2 linked regions of the Homo sapiens genome follow. The protein of the gene in region 2 purifies or fractionates together with the protein of the main gene of each other region. This does not show direct contact. Each region holds a gene or a part of one and is shown on either strand. Other genes may lie near its edges.

What was found. The genes of interacting proteins can lie anywhere in the genome.
Region 1: the proteins of MTHFD2 (region 2) and UBP1 purify together in Homo sapiens (affinity purification with mass spectrometry; 2 studies listed by BioGRID and IntAct, with this or other methods). This does not show direct contact.

The regions. Positions count from the first base shown.
Region 1 is NC_000003.12:33,395,406-33,402,405, reverse strand, and holds part of UBP1 (upstream-binding protein 1), read left to right. Parts: intron 1-1,389; coding exon 1,390-1,444; intron 1,445-2,123; coding exon 2,124-2,217; intron 2,218-5,270; coding exon 5,271-5,361; intron 5,362-5,527; exon of another isoform or gene 5,528-5,661; intron 5,662-5,889; coding exon of another isoform or gene 5,890-5,896; exon of another isoform or gene 5,897-5,949; intron 5,950-6,125; coding exon 6,126-6,244; intron 6,245-7,000. UniProt on the Homo sapiens protein: Functions as a transcriptional activator in a promoter context-dependent manner. Modulates the placental expression of CYP11A1. Involved in regulation of the alpha-globin gene in erythroid cells.
Region 2 is NC_000002.12:74,194,089-74,201,627, forward strand, and holds the start of MTHFD2 (bifunctional methylenetetrahydrofolate dehydrogenase/cyclohydrolase, mitochondrial isoform A precursor), read left to right. Parts: upstream 1-4,526; 5' UTR 4,527-4,553; coding exon 4,554-4,654; intron 4,655-7,293; exon of another isoform or gene 7,294-7,391; intron 7,392-7,539. UniProt on the Homo sapiens protein: Although its dehydrogenase activity is NAD-specific, it can also utilize NADP at a reduced efficiency.

The DNA of each region.
Region 1 (7,000 bases), on a different chromosome or scaffold from region 2:
TTTCTTTTCTCTCCCAATAGATATGCTATTTTTTTAATTAAATCTTTAAAGGAAGACCTTTCGGTTTCTACAGACTTGCTGTGGTTTTAGAAATGGAAATGGTGGACTCTTTATTCTGTTATCCAGCCTTGACTGGCAAGAGTCTAGAGTAAGCTCAGGGTGGGAGCAAGAGACTGCATTTGGGGCATCTTGAAGGTACAGCAGTACCCCATGGCGGCTTTCCATTCTAGGGCTTTGCTGCAGAACTAATGCAGAGTAGTTAGCATCAGAAGTTCCCTATTTTTAGGAAGTTTCTTGTTGGGGAGGAAAATTATGAAAGCTAAGATCACAAAGAAAAAGGTTCTCCGGTCATGCTGACAAGGTCTGATGAGAAAGCAAGCAAAAATGTGCTCTCCCCCTGAGGAGATGGATAAACTGAGAAGGCAGCTTGTTGTCATGTAGGCTATTATGCTTTAAGAGTAGAAAAATAGCCTTGGACTCAGAAAATTAGAGGAGTGACCAGAGGACCAGTAGGTTACCATGTCTGAGGGCTTAGAATAGTTTCCTAGTCAGTCAGTCCGGTCTGAATAATCTTAGAAAATGCTTATGGCTTTAAAGGTGAGCTGTAAGTTTATGTACTCACTAGTAGACTGGAGAACTTATTGTGTTCCCAGCACTGTTCTAAGTGTTCTGATACATTAGTGCCCAAACAGACAGACCCCCGTCTGAAGGAGCTTAAGTTCTTATGGGTAGAAAGGATATAAATAATCAAGATAATAAACCTAAGCAATTGAGGCACGGGGGCTAAGAAAGGAGTCGGTGCTCAAGAGCCAGAAGGTAGCCCTATTCCCTGTGGAGCTGTTTTTCATTTCATTTTACTTAGAAGCACAAGGATAGTGGTACAAGTTAATTTCTTTTGTTCTCTTGAAATTCACCCTCATCAATCTTGGATATATGTATTACTTAAAGGAGTATCATTTTATATTTTTGCTTAGGGTCATTGTACTATTTCTTGTAGCTCATTTTTTTTGCAATTATTTTCAACTATTTATCTAATTTGATGTTTCATATTTTTTCCCCTAACTTTTAAAAATTAATGTGTATCCTTCATTTTCCTTGGCATCCCTGAAGATAATTGGGGAAGCCCTTTTGTTTCACAAAACTTGAATTTCTTACTAGTACAGATGAAGAAGGCACAAATTAAGACACAGTCTTCTGTGTCTTAATTTCGTCATCATGTCCACACCCTAAGCTGTTGCGCTTGCATTTTGTTGCAGACTTTCATAGCTGTCTCCCACTGTTGCCTTACTTGAAATTTGCATAGTTACAATGCAACAGCTTTTAATGCCTTGATTAAAACATATATGTATTATAAAAATCATCATTTCCTTCTTTCTCCTTTCTCCCCAGCAATTCTTCTTCCCCAAATCATCAGGGAGATGGAGCTTCACAGACCTCTGGTGAAGTAAGTATCTTTCTCCTAAAACTATCTGATGCTTTCAGGGTTCTACATTTTAAAGTTTTGGTTTTTGTGCAAATGTATGGAGTAGGTGAGAAGTTTTGTTACATGTATGGTAATGTGTGGTAATCGAGTCAGGATATTTTGGGTGTCCATCACCTGAGTAGAGTACATTTTTTTAGGTATAGTCATCCTACTCTGCTACGAAATACTGAATTTACTCCTTCTGTTTTATTGTATGTTTGTTTGCACCCTTTAATCCAGTTCTTCTCATCCTCTCTCTTATCCCTCACCCATTCTTCCCGGTCTCTGTTACCTATTTTTCCACTCTCTCCCTTCATGTGTTCAAATTTTTTTAGTTCCCACATATAAGTGAGAATATAAGTCTTTCTGTGCCTGGCTTATTTCACTTAAGACAATGAAATGTTCATGTTGTCCATGTTGCTGCAAAAGGTGATTTCATTAGCAGCGGCATGATTTTTCTCTTTTTTTATGGCTGAATAGCATCCCATTGTGTATCATGTTTAAGTTTCTGACAAGGGCCTGCATCATTTGGGTTGCTGGAGTCAGACTCATGCTCTTTTTGGGTGTTTTTTACTTCAGACTCCGAGGCTTTCTGTGTTTTGTTTAAATGTTCTAAGTCTGAATGGTTCCTTTTATTTATGTTCATTTTCATTGTTAATAGCAAATTCAGCCTTCAGCTACGATCCAGGAAACACAGCAATGGCTGCTCAAAAACAGATTCTCTTCCTACACAAGACTGTTCTCTAATTTTTCAGGTATGTGTATGTGTGTGTGTATCTGTGCATGAGAATGTTTTGTTTTTGTTTCTGTGCTTTTATTAACTTTATATTTTTAAAATTTTGAAATAACTATGGATAGGAAGTTGCAAAGAAAAATGTACAGAGAAGTTCTTTATATCTATCCCCCAATAGGAATATCTTGTATTTTTATTATATGCTATTGAAGCCAGGCAGTTGACATTGGTTCAGTCAGCAGTTTTACCAGACTTACGTGACCTCATTTGTGTGTAGGTGTATATAGTTTTACATGATTTTTTTCATTTTAACTTTATTTTGAAATAATTTTTGTTTTACAGTAAGTTACAGAGCTAGTACAGTGATATTTCGGTGTACTCTTCACTCCGTTTCTCACATAATTATAGTACAATAGCAAAACCAGGAAACTGACATTGGCACAACGTATGTTATGGTATAGATATTTGTAACCACCACCACAATTAAGATGACAGGATTGTGCCATCACTACAAGGATCTCCCTCCTGCTACCCCTTCGGAGTCACACCCACACCCTTCCCCCACCATCCCTAGTCCTTGGCAACCACTTTACATTCTGTCTATAATTTTGTCATTTTGAGAATGTTATATAAATGCAATCATATAGTATATAGCCTTTTGAGATTGGCTTTTTTTCACTAGCATAACGGCCACCTAAGTTGTTGTGTTTATCAGTAGTTTAATCCTTTTTACTGCTAAGTAGTGTTTCATAGTCTGAGTGTACTCAATTACAGTTTTTATATACTTATGGGTAAGTTTTTTTTCTTGCACAGTAAGCTAAGGGAATGTTAAGAAGGAATTTTAAAAGGTATCAAGCACTGCTTCTCCAGGTAGTGCTATAGGAAACCTGTTTAGAGGGACAGTAATAGATAATGACAGGTGGGGCAGAGGTAGCATTTCCCAAATATATTTGGCTCTGGGACTCTTTTCCAACATGACCACCTAGTAACATGGCCTGGCCAAACATCCTGAGAAGTGCTGGATCACAGTAAAGTGGTAGTTAGCATTCCTTCACCTGCAGTGCAGTAGGGCCATTAAAACACAACTTTGTGAATCCCTTTAAGAGGACAGAACTTGTGTGTGCACACACTCAGCCTGAAGAAAAGCTTGATTTTGCTAAGAACATGGTTTCTTACTATGCCACGTATTGTAATGTTTGTGCAATGAGTAGTTATTCCCCGTGTACTTCTTTGTCTCTTTAAAGTTCCCTATGGAGGTCATTTGCTAGCTGGGGACTACATTTTTATATGATTAAGTAAAGCCTTTTATGTGTGAAAAACTAGAAATTGTAAAATTTCAGGGTCGGGGAGCTGGGGTTTGTCTTGCACTGTTGTATGGAAGGCAGATGAAAAGCATAGCACATAGAAAAAGCGCCGACATTTGGAACTGAAGGAGGCCCCACATTACTCCTTTTACATCAGGCAAATCCATGTTTCTATCTGGTGAGTTTTAATCCCTTTCGCTGTGAGCAGTGATCACATGGCGTGGCCTTCTGCCTTTTCCTTATCCTGGGGGCTTCTTCCAAGAAAGTGGGCGAGGAGCTAGCCATGGTACCCTTTGGGCACATCTCCTGAGTCACAGCACTGACAGTAGCATGGTGAGGAGGACAGTGAGTCTTCTTGCTCTGATCCTTGGGGGCATTCACATTTCAGGAAGGGTTGTACATTGCAGTTATCTGTCCAGTTCTCTGTATGGGTTAAGGGTGTGCACACACATACACAGTACTCTCTGGTCACAACTGTGAGGTGCATGTAGTAAGCCCTAGTAGAGAGATGAAAGAGAGCCTCTTTGCTTACCTGACTCTATAAAATGACTCTATTAATGCTCATGTCTCATGGGAGATGTGCTTCTCTGATCTTTGTTTTACAGACTAGAAATTTAGTAGGCTATTGCATTTGAGCCTTTAAAAAATAGAAAGATGACTCCATTATCTTCTACATATGTAAGTGGCTATTTATCATATGGAAGTCAAGCCTTCATCCCAAAGTTCATCTTAATTCCCCCAATAAACTGTATCCTGGGTGTTAGAGAATAAAACAAAAGATTATGGATACATTCAGACATTAAAAAGTAGAGAGAATATGATGAACTCCCATGCAGCCATCTCCTACCTTCAAAAACTACCAGCATTTGGTCAGTCTTGCTCTCCACTATTTCCTCTCCTGCCTTCTGTTGTATTTCAAAGCAAATCCTAGATGCCATATCATTTATGCTTGAAATACTGAATAGTAGTTCATGGTGTGTATGTACTCAGGTATGGCTTTTTTATACTTATATGTAAGTTTTTTTTTCTTGTATGGTAAGCGAAGGGAGTGTTCAGATAGAATTTTTAAAAGTGTCAAACACTGCTTCTCTAGGTGGTGCTATAGGAAACCTGTATAGAGAGACATTTACACTTGTAAATGACATCGTAAGTAGGATGTGCTTGGGGGAAATCTTAGGGTATAATGTGTGATTCTCTGCCATTCTTCTGTTAAAATTAGCTGCTGTGACAGAGTTGTTTATGTTATAAAATTTAACATGTTTGACTTTACATTGCACGTTTCAGAATAAAGAGGCCCAGTCCTAGTTCGGCTACCAACTCTTACAGACTTTAGGCAAGTCCCACAAACTCTGGACTTCCATTTCCTTTTTTTTAAAATTAAAGATTGACTGGCCCGGGTGATCTCAGGGTTTGTTTCTGTGGGGTGGGTTAGAATCATGTTTCTTCACATAGCCACAACCCAGTCACTAAATAAGGTAGATGAGTGAAATCCTATATCGGGAAGAGTTCTTTAGGCCCTGCTCTCATTGATTTGATTCATCAGCCTCAGGACTTCTAAGCTCCTTCTTGATACAGGACATGGAAAAGCCAGCATTTTCCTTGGCTCTGAAGGACAGGTGTCTGTTTGTCTTCTTATATTGTTCATGTGTATGTGTGTATTCAGGATATCTGATTATTTTGAAGGACATTGGACTGCATGAAGACAGATGCCTGTAAAGCAGTTCTGTTCTTTTTCCATTTATTTGAGAAAAATATTTTTGCTCTTCTCTAGGTGCCGACTTATTAAAACTGACAAAGGAGGATTTAGTTCAAATTTGTGGTGCAGCCGATGGAATTCGGCTCTATAATTCACTGAAGTCAAGGTAAAATACTGTGAACTGTTTTGCTTGAAATAAGAATGTACCTTTCTTCGCGTGGGGAATTTGGGCAGAATGTGTTTCCACGCTAGGTTGGCGTGTGTGCCTGTGTGCGCCATCGAGCATTGGCAGCATTGTGCTCACAAGAAGACTGTTTTGTGTACACCTTCAGGGCAGGCCCAGATATGATGCAGGCACTGATGAGGGCAGAGGTAGACTGTAAGACTGGTAGAAATGCACATGGGCAGTACTGATTTCTTGAAGACGACTGGGTTTGTTGCCAAGAAAACAAAACTTCTAATTTAGGTGAGCTATACAGAATCTATGGTTTTCAAGGTCATGACTATTACTAAACAGTTATTAAAAATGTAAACTAATTGTGAATTAAAATGACAGAAACTGTAAATTGTGCTGGCTTGTAAGAACCATTTACTATCATTGCTCTTTCTATACTTGTGGTGTGAGAATTCCATTAAAATTGAATCTTACTGATTTTTAATTTGCTGACTTAATCTTGAAACTTAAATTTACCAGCATCTGACAGACCATCTCAATGGTTTAGAGTCTGGATCATCATATTAGACCACCTGTGATAGTTGGTGTGAGGTGTGTGGTTTTTATATTTTTATTAGTAAATTACTTTGTATAACGAAATAACATTATAAAGTTCTCATAAGGAAATAGAACTTAGATTCCTGTAGTTGTCATATTTGTACATGTGTAAGGCAGCTTTCTCTCCCAGGCTCATCAGTGGCATCTTCTGATTGCAGGTCGGTTAGACCCCGTTTAACCATCTATGTCTGCCGGGAGCAGCCAAGCAGCACAGTGCTGCAAGGGCAGCAGCAAGCTGCAAGCAGTGCAAGCGAGAATGGCAGTGGGGCACCCTATGGTAGGTATTGAGGGCATCTCAATTCTGTCACTTCTGAGACTGTCAGACAGAAACGGAAAGGACTCGATTGAGCAGGCTTTGGAGAACTCTTGCTGTGTTAGGAATGCCAAGTTGCTCATGTGGGAGCCTTGACAGCAATGAGAGGTGGCAGCTCTAGGGTGAAGTCCTTGGGAGAAGAGGAAACTGGCATTCTTTCTCAGTCATTGCAGCCACACTATGGGTCTGTTTTTCATGTGGCCCTTCATGCCGGAAATATCTAACAAGTGGAAAAACTAGCTTGAATGCATTGAGTTCTGGCTTTTTTTTTTTTTTGGTCAGATTTACTGAAATGATGAATATAACACTGGCAGCTTAACAAAAAAGCAGGAGGGTTTTTCTTTCCTTTTTCTTTTTTTTTTTTTTTTTTTTTTTCAATTTTCCTGACTAGGTATGGGGAGAACTCTTAAAGCATAACATATGTGCAACAGTGCCTGCATGTAATAGTCCTAAGTGTGTGGACTTGTCACTGACAAGTGTTCGGCCAGCATTGTGCACCTTGTGTGGCGCGTCTGGTGCCGTGTTTTTATGTCACTGTAAATAATACTACCCAGTACGTTATCTTGGGAGGGCTTCTCATCCTGAGCATTTAATTGTACGGTATAGTGCTGGATTAGGACAGAGATAATCTTGGCTTCTCCCTCTTCTCACCTCTAAATATGGCCCTTAAAAAAAGCAAGCATTTTAAAAGGCATATATTTTCTCATTTATTGTATGGAT
Region 2 (7,539 bases):
TAAGAGAGTGGGAGCGTAGAAGCAGGTCCTTTTGTGAAGCATATTAAAAATATATAATAATGTTCACACATGGGTTTCGTAACTCCCCAGTGGGCTCATCTTGCCTGCTGCCTAGATACAGCCCATTTATCAAGACACAGGAATTATAATACAGAGAGCGTTTAATACACAGAGAGCTGGCTAAACCGAAGACTGGAATTTTTTTTTTTTTTTTTGAGACAGAGTCTTGCTCTGTCACCCAGGCTGAAGCGCAGTGGCTCACTGTGACCTCCCGCCTCCCGGGTTCAAGCAATTCTCCTGTCTCAGCCTCCTGAGTAGTTGGGATTACAGGTGCATGCCACCATGCCTGGCTAATTTTTTTTTTTTTTTTTTTTTTTTTGTATTTTTAGTAGAGACGGGGTTTCACCATGTTGGCCGGGCTGGTATCAAACTCCTGACCTTGTGATCCACCCACCTCGGCCTCCCAAAGTGCTGGGATTACAGGCATGAGCCACCGCGCCAGGCCAGAGTTTTATTATTACTCAAATCAGCCTCCCAGAAAGTTTGGGTGTTTCAAGGATAGTTTTGTCCATGCCCAGGAATGACCAAGGGAAGTTTGGAAGTTAAAGGCAAGATGAAGTTGGTTAGATCAGATCATTAATGAAAGTGGTCTAACTAAATGTTAGATCGCTGTTAACAATGTTTGCAAAGGCGGTTTCAATTCATTCCTGAAAGTTCACATTTTGGGAAAAGAAAATTTCCCAAATTTTGCAGAGGGATGGAGGGTTAGTTTCCTTAAAAGATGGGAAATGTGTATTTCCTTTCCCTCTTCAATCACTGTTGCTAGGTTCAAGTAACTCTAAGGTGCCTCCTCCCCACAGCGTACTGGGGACAGGATCTGCAAATTATCACACCCAGTCTTATCACCAGTTATATAACCTGTAGGCCATTCTCTGACCTCTAAACCTTCCATATCCATTGTTTTGTGGGCTCTCAGCATCACATTCTTTTTCTTAGTCTCTTATTCATTGTATGCCTGCCTCACTCCATGCCCCATAAGGGCATAAATATTACTGATCTTTTTAGCCTGGCCAACATGGGGAAACCCCATCTTTACTAAAAATACAAAAATTAGCCAGGCATAGTGGCACATGCCTGTAATCCCAGCTACTTGGTAGGCTGAGGCACGAGAATCACTTGAACCCAGGATGCGGAGGTTGCAGTGAGCCAAGATCATGCCATTGCATTCCAGCCTGGGTGACACAGTGAGACTCTATCTCAAAAAAAAAAAAAAAAAGAAAAAGAAAAGAAGAGAAAAAAAAATTACTGGTCTTTTAAAAAATTTTTGACATTATTTCAGACATACAGAAAGGTTACAGGAAAAGTTCAAAGAATACTTGTATACTCTTCCCCACTTGTTAATATTTTACATTTGCCACTTGTTTTATGGGTTTTTTTTTTATGTATATACATTGTTATGGACTGAATTGTATCCTCTCCAAAATTCAGTGTTGACACTCTGACCTTGGAATGTGACTCTATTTGGAAATAAGGCCTTTAAAACAATGATTAAAATGGTTAAAATGGGGCTGTTAGGGTAGGCTCTAAATTAATCTGATTGGTTTCTTTATAAGAGGAGATTAAGACATTCGGAGAGGCCGGGCATGGTGGCTCATGCTTATAATCCCAGCACTTTGGGAGGCCAAGACAGGTGAATTCCTTGAGCCCAAGAGTTCAAGGCTTACTTGGGCAACATGGCGAAGCCCGGTCTGTACTAAAAATACAAAAAATTAGGCTGATGTGGTGGCGCATGACTACAGTACCAGCTGCTGGGGAGGCTGAGGTGGAAGGATCACCTGAATCCAGGAGGTTGAGGCTGTAGTGAGCTGAAGGCGCACCATTGCACTCCAGCCTGGGCGACGAGAGTGAGACCATGTCTCAAAACAACAACAAAAAAAGTAAAATAATAAAAGATATTCAGAGAGAGACGTCAGGGTTGCATGTGCACACACAGAAAAGGCCATAACACAGCAGGCATGCAGCCCTCTGTAAGCCAAGGACTGCAAGCCTCAGGAGAAACCAATCCTGCCAACACCTTGACCTTCGCTTCTAGCCCCCAGAACTGTTAGAAAATACATTTCTTTCTTTTTTTTTTTTTTTTAGATCGAGTCTCACTGTTGCCCAGGCTAAAGTGCAGTGGTGCGATCTCGGCTCACTGCAACGTCGGCCTCCTGGATTCTAGCAATTCTCCTGCCTCAGTCTCTCAAGTAGCTGGGATTACAGGCATGTGAAACCATGCCTGGCTAATTTTTATATTTTTAGTAGAGACAGGGTTTCACCATGTTGGCCAGGGTGGTCTCAAAATCCTGATCTGAGGTGATCCGCCTGCCTCAGCCTCCCAAAGTGCTGGGATTACAGGCGTGAGCCACTGCACTCAGCCCATTTCTGTTGTTTAAATGACTCAGTCTGTGTTATTTTGTTATGGCAGCCCTAGCCAACTTATACATACAAAGCATTATTTTTTTCTGAACTATTCAAAAGTAAGTTACAGACATGGTCCTTTAGTACTAGAAGCAAGTGCAATATATTCTCTTACATTACTGCATGCGATTAGCTAACACTGATAAAATGCTATTAGCTAGTTGCAGACTTTATTCATATTTTGCCAATTGTCCTATAATGTCATCTATAGCAAAAGAGAGAAAAAAAGAAGCAAGAAAGAGAAAAAAAGAAAGACAAAAAGTTTTGGGTCCAGAATCCAATCCAGAATCAAACAGCATTTAGCTGTCATGCCTAGGCTCCTTTAATGGAGAACAGTTTCTCATTCTTTGTCTTTCATGGCCTTGGAGCTGTCAAGAGTACAAGCAATTTATCTTGTAGAATATCTCTCACTTTGGGCTTGTCTGATATTTCCTTGTGAATAGATTAAGATCTACTAGTGTGTTCCAAAGCTTTACAACTGTTTTTTTTCCTGGACAGTTTTAACATTCTAGGTCTGTGATCTTTCTTCTCAATGTGAAATGAGGAATCTGTAACCGTTTTTAGGAGACTCATTGGTTTAGGAAAATCACCTTATTAAATTTACAGACTTGTTAAGAGCTACGAAGTGATGTGTCTCCTCAATGGATCCTATCAGAAGGCATATATGTGTGTTCCCTTACTGGGTGGTGCTAACTTTGATCACGTGGTTGAAGCAGTAACTGTCATGTTTCTTCACTGTAAATTTACCATTTTCCTTTCCTTCCTGGAGGCTAGAAGTAAAGGTCAAGGTGTTGACAGGATTGGTTTCCCCTGTTCTTTGTTTGTTTGTTTTGTTTTTTGAGACAGAGTCTTTTTGTTGCCCAGGCTGAAGTGCAGTGGCACAGTCTCGGCTCCCTGCAACCTCTGCCTCCCAGATTCAAGCGATTCTCATGCCTCAGTCTCCCCAGTAGCTGGGATTACAGCGTCCGCCACGATGCTCAGATAATTTTTTGTGTTTTTAGTAGAGACGGGGGTTTCAACACATTGGCCAGGCTGGTCTCGAACTCCTGGCCTCAGGTGATCCGTCCGCCTTGGCCTCCCAAAGAGCTGGGGATTACAGAAGTGAGCCACCGCGCCCTGCCCTCCTTAAGTTTCCTTGCGGGAGAGATACTTTGAGACTATGCAAAAAGTTTGCGGGAAAAAATACAGGAAGCCCAGTTGAATCTGAATTCCAGATAAGCCATAAATAAAGTATAAATATGACCTCCCAAAGTGTTTATCTAAAATTCTGATTTGATTGGGCATCTTGTGTTTTTATTTGCTAGATCTGGCAACCCTATATGTAAATATCTTGCTCCTCATCCAACTTTCACCCAGTTGTTTTGACATCTATTGCTGCTTCTGAATCAGGGTTGCACATGCAACCCTGACGTCTGTCTCTGAATATCTTTTATGATTTTACTTTTTTTGTTGTTGTTTTGAGATATGGTCTCACTCTCGTCGCCCAGGCTGGAGTGCAGTGGCGCGCCTTCAGCTCACTGCAGCCTCAACCTCCTGAACTCAGGTGATCCTTCCACCTCAGCCTCCCCAGTAGCTGGTACTGTAGTCACGCGCCACCATGTACTGATTTTGGAAAATGGTGATTTTCTAACTCCATCATTCCTTTTACTTCTGTTCGTTGGCATTCTATCAGCTTGTCTTTTCATCCACCCTTTACAGTGCTTGGCACACAGTAGGCGCTCATATAATTGTTCAACGAATGAATGAATGAACTTTTCTCTTGTGTTGTCCGGCCTTCGGTGACACTAGCGGCGTCAGGCAGGAGTTTGACTTCCTCAGCCTATCATGGCACGTTGCCGAGGCTTCAGCGCCTTACAGGACCTCGCTCCAGGCTCTTCTGGCTCCAATCAAAAGCAGGGCTCTTTCGGACTTCGCTTACGTTTAATAAAGAAAACCGGTTGGCCCCTTCGGCTCCACCTGGCTCAACAGACAGCCAGTGGCATGCGGCAGGGACCAATGGGTGGCGGAGGGAGGCGGGGCCTGCCACGAGGCCGCAGTATAACCGCGTGGCCCGCGCGCGCGCTTCCCTCCCGGCGCAGTCACCGGCGCGGTCTATGGCTGCGACTTCTCTAATGTCTGCTTTGGCTGCCCGGCTGCTGCAGCCCGCGCACAGCTGCTCCCTTCGCCTTCGCCCTTTCCACCTCGCGGCAGTTCGGTAAGAGGGTCACAGAGCTCGGTCAGCGCGGAAAGCTGAGGGGAACGGAGGGCGAGGGGCACGCCGGGCCCCCGAGGGACACCGAGGGAAGTCCTTCCCGAACATCTCCGCCCCGGCGGTGGTGGCCGCTGAGGGGTGTGGCGGGGCGACGTGGCACCGAGCGCCGCCGCAGCTCTCGACTGGGGCGCTTCCTCGGCGCGGAGGGCTGGTACCCGAAGCCCGCCTTTCGGAGGGAGCCGCTCTCCTGCGACTCGGGGCGTCGCCGGGGCCCGTGGCCAGTCGGCGGGCGGGACGGGGGTGGCGTGCGGAACGCGAAGGCATCAGTTTACGCGGAGCCTTCCGACAGCGCCGGCCGCCTCTGGCTGGGATGCTGAGAGTCGTCTGGGGGAGAACAGGCGAGGGTTCCAAAAGAGCAGCCCTCGGCGAGTTGTCCTTGCGGGGACCCTAGCGGCGGAGGGCGCTGCTGCAGCTGATGAAATCGCGGAGCCGACTTGCTCGGGGTCCCCGCGCCGCCCTCCTCCCTCCGCCGGTGGGAGTGGCCCGCGCTGCCTCCGCTCTGCCAGGAACATGAACGGACTCTGGGCACCCTAGCTTTGGCTGCAGCCCACCAGAGCCTGTCAGTGCCGGGCTGCGTACATAGAGGTGGCAAACATCCGGGAGGCTCCCAGGGCCTTAGGGAAAGGGGGAATGGAGAGTGACAAGTACCCATATTTCAGCGGTACTTGCAGAATTTCAGTTTTACAAGATGAAGAGTTCTGAAGATGGATGGTGGTGATGGTTGCACAACATATGAACGTATTTAATACCACTGAACTGCACTTAAAAATGGTTAAGATGGGCCGGGCGTGGTGACACGCGCCGAGGCTGAGGCACGAGAATCGCTTGAGCCCAGGAGTTCGAGGCTGCAGTGAGCCGTGATTGCACCACTGCCCTCCAGTCTGGGCGACAGAGCGAGACCCTGTCTCAAAAAAAAAAAAAAAAAAAAAAGTTGATAAGGTTTATGTTATGTGAATTTTACCACAATAACAAAATTGGGAAAAATATACAGGGGAGGAGGAAAGGAAAAGCTCTGTTTGCATTTTTGGGTTTCCTTGGGAAGGTGATTTGGTCGGTCATTAGAGCGCTGGCATTGTTGGCATTGTTAGAGCCCTGCACCTTACAACATCAGCCCCTTCTTTTTTTCATCTAACGTTCACTGTGTACCAGACACTATGCCAAGCTGTGCGAATTCAAAGATGAGAAAAACTGTTCTTAATGGAGCTCATGTTCCTGACAAGGGGCAGAACACGCGTGTAATTTCCAGTCAGTGCGGAAATGCTGTTAGAAATATTTCAAAGGCGCTGCTTGTTGGAGCAATGAGTTCTTGAAGGAAAACGTGGGAGGGGACTTTCAGGGTTTTCCCTGGTCTGACTCTTGACCTCCCCCATGTTTCGTTACTGTGTGTTTTCTCCCCTTCTCCCTCTTCCTGAGTGCTGGCCTCATGTGACTGTGGACCAGACCTTTCCTAGGCTTCCATGGTCCAAAAGAGATTTATAAAGATGCTCTCATTCATTACCTAAAGAACTGGGCCAGTTTGTCTACACTCTCCAATAACAAATGCTCTTTTCACTACCTTTCTGAAAGAACAAGTAAGCTTCATCCACATCTCTGAAAGCAATCCATATTATCTGTACTGCACATTTGCTATTTACAATTCCCACATATTGCTTTCTTACTGCTGCTTATTTTTTAAAATACTGTTTATTTTTAAATACTGCTTATTTTTAAAAAGTTGTATCCTTTTAAAAATATGAGTCTGCATTCTTTTTTTTTTTTTCTTTGTTGGATGGTATGAGAGTTTCAGGAACATAAACCTATGGTTGGAGAAATAGTAGCCTAGGAGACAGTGGGATTAGGAAGTCAATGGACTTTAGAGGCAGAAGTTTGCCTTTGAATCTTGTTTCTACTATCCTCAGTTTCATCTTCTGTATTACAGTGTTATTATAATAGTCCCAAGGTAACAGAGTAATATATGTTAAAGTGTAAGCAAAACACCTAGTGTTTAATAGATGTTTGTTCCTTTCTCCATTATGTCTTCCTTCACTCATTATTTTTCCCATTAATAATTGATAACAACTCTTCCCTAAATCACTTGATTATGAATTGTAAAATGTCCTGATACTAATTTCTCATGGAAAATTACAGTACTGTAAGCTATTGAATTAAAAGGAAAGTGAAGATGCTACTCACTTGGATTTTAGTTTTGAATTTTATTTTATTTTTTGAGACGGAGTCTTACTTTGTTGCCCAGGCTGGAGTGCAATGGTGCAATCTTGGCTCACTGCAACCTCTGCCTCCTGGGTTCAAGCTGTTCTCCTACCTCAGCCTCCCAAACAGCTGGGACTATAGGCGCACACCACCATGCCCTGCTAATTTTTGTATTTTTAGTAGAGACAGGGTTTCACCATGTTGGCCAGGCTGGTCTCGACCTCCTGACCTCAAATGATCCACCCACCTTGACCTCCCAAAATGCAGGGATTACAGGCATGAGCCACAGTTTTGGATTTTATTTGAACAGTCCTCTTGACTTCTTCCTATTCTGTTGATTACCTATCTTAATGGGATTTTTTTCTTTCCTTTTTTTTTTTCTTTTTTGGCAGGGGAATCTCTCCCTAGGTCAGGTTGGAGTGCAGTGCTGCAATCACGGCTTACTGCAGCCTTGACCTCCTGGGCTCAAGTGATCCTCCCACCTCAGCTTGTGAGTAACTGGGACCACAGGAGCATACCACCATGCCTGGCTAATTTTTTTTTTTTTTAACTTTTAGTAGAGATGGGGTCTCACCATGTTGCCCACGCTAGTCTTGAACTTGGCCTCCCAAAATGCTGGGATTACAAGGCCTGTGCCA